Homo sapiens: one gene and its partner. The protein of the gene in region 2 purifies or fractionates together with the protein of the main gene of each other region. This does not show direct contact. Each region holds a gene or a part of one and is shown on either strand. Other genes may lie near its edges.

Region 1 (3,657 bases), on a different chromosome or scaffold from region 2:
ATACTATATTCTAGGAACTGTTTTTCAAGTTCTCTGCTATACTCTGAAACAGATATTCTGGTTTTGATTAGGAAATTATTTCCTGAATCACATTCAGTATAGATGATATGCTTGTATGTACACATATGTAAACATACTCATGATTTCTTACACATGTGAAACAGTATATAATACTTATATTTAAATACATGAAATTGAATTTTTAGAGTATAGTAAAAATAATTAGCATTAATTTTATTTTGTTTCTAAAACAGGTGACAGTCATTTAACATTTTTTGTACTTTCTAAAGATTTTCTGACTAAAAGCATTTTAAAACATTTCAAATCAACAAGGAAATTTTTTTTTTCAAGTTAAAGGAATACCTAATGCAGAAAATTTGAGAAACACAGTAAAGCATAAAGACCAAGACAAAAATTACATGTAATTCCAGCATCCTAAGTTAACTATAGTTTGTTTGGTTTTTGTCCTTCCTTATCTTTTAAAATAAAAGCCCAAAATAAAATTATCTTCCGTAGTTTATACTTTCCCTTAGTTATATTTTGTTCAAAAATTTCTTGTCACTGTAACAATCTACAGTGTGTTTTGAATGGCTTTATATTATTTCATCTTACTAATTTACCCTAGTATTTTTAACGAGTTTCCTAGGGAGATATAAAGGTTGTTTTATATTTTTATATATAATGCTGTAGTGATCATTTTTATTTTGTTTCCTTGGGTTAAATTCTTTGAAGTAAAATTGCTTGATTAAATAAGATGTACATTTTCTGTGGTTTTGATAAATAGTTCCTGATTGTTCCCTAGAATGGTAACATCAATTTACTTGCACACCAGCATTTACTAGAGTCCCTCTTTAACAACACTGGATACTATGATTCTTTTTTAATCTTTACAAGTTTGATAGGTGAAATTGGTTCTACCTTTTTAGTTCATTTTTACGAGCTCTTTTTATAAAGGAGAGCAACCATTTGTCAAAAGTATATCCTTGTTATATGCTTTTTAAATACTGACTTCTTAAAATTATAGAAACTTTACATTTTTAGAAAATCAGATTCATCAATTTTTAACATTATCATGTCTGCTGTCCTTTAATAGCTTAAAAATATATCACCTTTTCCCCCTACTTCATTTGCAATTTTATTTTTTTGCATGTATTTCTAATATTTATTTCATCATCAAATTTAGGTTATACCTTATTTTTAACCTACCATTAAATTTACTTATTTTTTTCACCATGTGGTACCACCTTCAGTTTTGCTTTGTTTGGAATCTAAAGAGTTTATTGAAACAGAGGTGAATGTACACTTAAGAGAAATGAACTGAGAAATCTCAAAAAATGAAGATTTACAAAGATGTAGGAGCACCTAAAAATATTTTTTTAGAGAAAATGATAATTATGGTCAGCCTACCCTTTTATCTAGTATCACAAAACTCTTTTTGGTCTTAAAGCTAGTTAGTTACAAAATGACCATTTTTTTTTTCTAATTGAACACTTAGAAGGAATATTTATGTTTAGGTGACTGGAAATGCATATCTACAGGTTTTTTTGAAACTGTGAAAATTACAATCAGTTCACTTGATTCATTTGACATGTTTGAGCAAGTCATTATAGGAGGCAGGAATTTTTTGATGGAATGTTAAATTATCGTAGGATATCAGTTTTAGCACCAGTCTTGGGGACACAGTGGCAAAAACGTAGCAGTTTCGAAAATGTCAGATATATTTAACATTCGATATTCCTTTCTGCATATGAACAGTTGTAAGCTTTTTTAAGTATAATAGGTCGCAGGCAGCTTTGGTAGCCTATATCTAGAACTATTTTTTTTCTTTAAGAGACAGAGTCTACAACATTTCCCAGGCTAGACTTGAGCTCCTGGGCTAAAGTACTCTTCCCACCTCAGCCTTTTGTGTAGCTGGCACTACAGGTGTGTCACTGTGCCCAGCTCTGGAATTTTTAAACTCCAAATAAATATCTATAGTATAATTTTCATATAGCCCTATTTAATGTTTCTATAGAGAGAAAAAGGGATATAGAATTGTGCCATGTAACCTTTTTATATTTTTAAGTTACTTTTATAAGTTTGTTTCTGATTTATAGTTTGTTTTTAGTTATTCCAGGGATATATGTTACATCCATTGACCATATTGAGACACTTGTTCTAAAGTTTTAAAACTACAGTTAATTTTTTTGTGTCAGCACTACCAATATGTATTATAGGTTAAGTATCCATAACCTGAAAATCTGAAATCCACAATACTCCAAAATCTGAAACTTTGAGTGCCAACATGATGCTCAAAGGAAATGCTCATTGGAGCATTTTGGATTTGGGATTTTTGCGTTAGGGATGTTCAACCAGTAAGAATGCAGATATTTTAAAATCTGAAAACTTCTGAAATCTGAAACATTTCTGGTCCCAAGCATTTTGGTTAAGGGATACCCAACCTTTGTAAGCAAAAATACATTCACATTATGAAAGACAAATTTTTTTACTTCATTTGTTATTGAAACTAGATACTATACAGCAAGGAACAGTTAGTATTATACATTAATTATGATTGTGATTATAGTTCCTTTTCATAAGTCCAGCCTTTTAAAATTCCATATCAACGGAATTACCACAATTCTTTAAGGAAAAATTGTGATGTTGGTAAAGTAACACACAGTACCAAATACTGTAACCTTTAGTTATATATACTTTTGTAAGGAAGAGAAGAAAACTTTATTTAGTTCTAGTACTGACTCTAATATTGTAATAACAATTGTTATTCTGTTTTAAGTAGATTCAAATTATTTTTACTTCTCTATTCTTAGTCTTGTTGAGTCACTGTGTGTAATGAATTAACTTCTCTATGCACCTAGAATAGTACTGGCTATGTATTATCCCTGACAAGACTGAGGAAATAGTCACTTTCTGCGTGGCCTAACAATGGCCTAGAAAAGCTGGACTAGACCATCTGTTGAGCTCCTTCTAGCTCTAATTTTATTTAATTCTATATTTTATCCACAAAATTAGTTTGATACTGTACTTTATAAAATTGGGGGAAGGAGTCCTTTTCTCATATGTGATGCTAATTGATTTTTGAGAAAATATCTTGGTATTCATTTTACCCTAAGAGCTGCTACTACCTGCCCATTTTATCTTGCTTTATGCACCAGTGTCACAGTTGTGCTCAACCCATTTAAATGTCTAAGAACTTTTATTCTTAGTCTCAATATGAATTTTTGGCATCATACTATTAATAATTAAAGGAACACATTTAGAAGAGAACTGTCTTTTGATAAAGTGTTTAAGGTAGAGACAAATTTTCCCTTTTCTTTTCGAGTGATAAATATATATTAGGTAGGTAGTCATAACACATTTGTTTTAGACATTTATTCAATCATTTGTTCAGTCTTATTAAATACCTATCATGTGTCAAGAACCAATGCTAGGTTTTGAATTTAAAAATGGAAAGGGCTAAATAGCTGCATGATCTTGGATGAGAGTACACACACACACACACACACACATACATATATATATGTGGTCCTTCATAAATCTAAAATGCTGTAATTATTAGGTAATCTGCAGGGTGTATTTTTTTTCCTCAGTCCCTTTGGGTGTGACTGCTGTACACATTTTCATGTTACCATTGACATCTTCAGTTTTTCAATGTGA
Region 2 (3,657 bases):
AGCATTCCATCCCAGACAGGGGGCCCTTGGTTTCTGGGGGCAGCACAAGTCATCGTGGCATTGGCTTGAGATATTCCCAACTTTTTTTTTGAGACAGAATCTCACTCTTGTTACCCAGGCTGGAGTGTAATGGCATGATCTCGGCTCACTGCAACCTCCACCTCCCGGGTTCAAGCAGTTCTCCTGCCTCAGCCTCCCGAGTAGCTGGGATTACAGGTGTGCGCCCCCATGCCCAGCTAATTTTTTGTATTTTTAGTAGAGATGGGGTTTCACCATGTTGAGCAGGCTGGTCTCGAGCTCCTGGCTTCAGGTGATCCACCCGCCTTGGCCTCCCAAAGTGCTGGGATTATAGGCGTGAGCCACCGTGCCCAGCCTTGTATTAAAACTTGAGTGCTGTACACATATGCAGCGTGTGGCACTGCCCCCCCAACCTTGGTAACGATTGTGCCATTGTTGAATTTTGCTTGGTGCATCATGTACCTCATGCTTCACTGTCTCTGCACCTGGGAGGCACTCTTGTTATCCCATTTTTAAAAATTTACAAGTCCCCATTATGCCTCAGAAAATCTTGTTTTCCCATTTTACAGGTGAGGAAACAGGTGCAGAGAGGCCAGGTGCTTGCCAGGGTGGCACTAGGCAGGGATAAAGCGGGCCAGCGGCTCCAGAGTCTATGCTCTCTCCACCTAAAGTTAAGAAAACAGTTACAGAGAAGTAAGAGGCAGTGTTAATATCAGATGAACTGGAATGAATGGGCCAAAATCGTATTTAAAATGCATGCTAATACAGTCTGTAAAGACTGTCACAGTTATGAAGCCTTGCTTTCCCAAGTAACATGCTCACTATGCGTAAACCAGAAGCAGCTGGGCAGAGTACCAGGAGCACAGTGACAAGCTCCTGTCTGTGACAGATCATTGACTAAAGATCATGTGATTAAAAGGTGACATGGAATAGAGGCATCGCATCTCAGAATCAGTGAGCTGGATTTTGAGAATTGATGAGCAGATTTTGCCCGTAAACGTGCAGTATGAGGGCATGCAAGCAGTTGATACCTTACCTACAGAAAGGATGTTATTTTATCTTTTTAAATTTTTTTCTTTTTTAAAAGAATTCCCTGCAAGTAAGCGCAGGACTTAGGAGTTTAGTAAGGAAATGCCACGCTCCAGTTTAGTACATTTTGAAACATGCTGAAATGACTATTCTGCAAGCAGTACAAATTGGTGACGTTGACTCAAGGTAGAAAACCTGAAAAGGCCTCTGGTCCAGGGACCAAAGTGAGAGGTTGTCAGGGAGCCACCCTTGTGACTCCAAAGAGCTTGCAGCTCAGAGACTCCACAAAGGAAGCCACCCCATCTGCTCCCCAGAACCCACGTGGCCCAGGTGTGGGAATGAGCTGCAAGGGGCACCAGCCACTGTGCCATGTACTTGGCAGGAGCGAGCGAAACTTCAGGACGGCCCCGAGGAAGGCATCTCTTCATCTCTGCCCTCCACACTCGGAGGTGAAGCATCTTGCCTGAGGGCTCCAGCTCGTACGCAGCAGGACTGAGATCGGAAGCAGGCAGGCTTGTTCGAGAACCTGTGGCTCTCATCACTGTGCTGCAGCTAAACGCAGAAAAAGGAAGCACAGACCAGCTTCCCGCATGAATGGAAGTGCAGAGACCCTCCATAAAATCTTAGCAACTAGAATCCAGCACTGTAGGAAAAGAATAGTCACCCACAGTGGCGTACACCAGCGGTGAGAGGCTGGTTTTGTGTCAGTAAATCCAGTCATACACTAAACCATACTGTTGGGTCAGAGAAGAGCCTAGATAGTGAGTTTCACAGATCCTAAGAAGACGTTTCACGTTTAACATCCATTCCTGATAAGAGCTCTTGGTCAAGGGGCTTAGTAATAGGGCTCTTTCCTTAACAGGATAAGTGGCATCGTGTATTAATAGCTAGCTACTGCTTCAAAGTAAAAGTGTGGGAGGCAGTCCCCTTAAAACAAGAAAGATGAGGATGCCTCTAGCAGATGACAGGGTAATTGGGCAGGAAGAACATTTATGTCTGTTCAGGAGATGGAACAGCAGAAAGGCTTTGACGATTAAGAGGCACACCCAGTGAGCCGGCCCAGCGCAGAGTTGCACAAAGACCACCAGCTTTCTTGCACAAGGATGATGGCCAAGTGGGAAATATAATAAGAGAATGTAATAGAAACGAGAATCTGGGGCCCCACCTTCCAGGCATACGTGTATAAAGCAGACTGGACTCTGGGAAGAAGGCCGAGGAGCACTCGCCCCCCAACTCCTCCCCAGGGAGAGGGAGAAAAAGCCATGATTTTGGATGAAAAAAAACTTCAGAACCATAGAGGAAGGGATGTTCCCAGTTCACACTGTTTTTTTTTTTTTGAGACGGAGCCTTACTCTGTTGCCCAGGCTGGAGTGCAGTGGCACGATCTCGGCTCACTGCAGCCTCGGCTGCTCACTCGGCTCCCAGGTTCAAGTGATTCTCCTGCCTCAGCCCCTCGAGTAGCTGAAACTACAGGTGCCTGCCACCACACCTGGCTAATTTTTGTATCTTTAGTAGAGACGGAGTTTCACCACGTTGGCCAGGCTGGTCTCGAGCTCCTGACCTCAAGTGATCCGCCTGCCTCAGCCTCCCAAAGTGCTGGGATTACAAGCCTGAGCCACCATGCCTGGCTTAGTTCACACATTTAATATGAACACAGTGAGAGGTCAGGCAGGGGCTTCAGGAGAGGAGCTTGCCCAGTTGATCTTGAGGCTTGAAAAGGCTAACATTTGAGAGTCACCTGTAACATTTTTGAAAAGAAAAGCAATCAGGCGGAGGCAGGACACGGGGAGGTGGACATGTACTTTTTCAAATCCTAAAACTTAAAGTGTAGGAGTTAGAAGACTGTTGTGATTAAAGTGGTCTCAGTCCTATAATCCTAGCACTTTGGGTGGCTGAGGCAGGTGGATCACTTGAGTCCAGGAGTTTGAGACCAGACTGGGCAATATGGGGAGACTCTATCTGTACAAAAAATACAAAAAAAAAAAAAAAAAAATTAGCCCAGCATGGTGGCGCATGCCTGTAGTCCAAGGTACTCCGGAGGCTAAGGTGGGAGGATCACTTGAGCCCCGGAGGTGGAGGCTGCAGTGAGCCGTGATCGTGCCACTGCACTACAGCCTGGATGACAGTGAGACCCTATCTTTAAAAAAATTGTTTTTAATAAAAATAAAATGCTGCAGTCCTCGTACAAAAGCAGGCCTGGGAAATAACGTGTAATGGAGGGAGCATTTGACATCAGTAGGGGACGGGGAGCTGGTGAGTAAATGGAGCTGGGAAATCTGGCTAAGTGGTTGCCTTTGGAAAAAAATAATCCAAGAGAAATAAGGAGTCAGACCAGAAACTGTGGTTCACAAGAGAGGAAAAATACGGTCAATGAGTGTAGGTAATAAGCTTAATCTTACCAAGAATCTAACAAGTACAACTTAAACAAGACTAGATTTTTGCCTACGGGGTTGGTAAAGGCTTTTTTTCATGTTGGTGAGGGTGGACTGAGGCAGGGATGTTCATAGAGCAGCTGGGAATAGTTTTAATAAATTTAGGGGCCCCATGGCAGGACTGGGAGCAGCACAGACCACACAGTTGGAAACATGCATCGGGGAAGAATAACTTTGA

What was found. The genes of interacting proteins can lie anywhere in the genome.
Region 1: the proteins of CPT1A (region 2) and EMC2 fractionate together in Homo sapiens (co-fractionation; one large-scale study listed by BioGRID). This does not show direct contact.

What each region holds. Positions count from the first base shown.
Region 1 is NC_000008.11:108,471,069-108,474,725, forward strand, and holds part of EMC2 (ER membrane protein complex subunit 2), read left to right. Parts: exon of another isoform or gene 1-95; intron 96-3,657. UniProt on the Homo sapiens protein: Part of the endoplasmic reticulum membrane protein complex (EMC) that enables the energy-independent insertion into endoplasmic reticulum membranes of newly synthesized membrane proteins.
Region 2 is NC_000011.10:68,768,787-68,772,443, reverse strand, and holds part of CPT1A (carnitine O-palmitoyltransferase 1, liver isoform), read left to right. Parts: intron 1-3,657. UniProt on the Homo sapiens protein: Catalyzes the transfer of the acyl group of long-chain fatty acid-CoA conjugates onto carnitine, an essential step for the mitochondrial uptake of long-chain fatty acids and their subsequent beta-oxidation in the mitochondrion.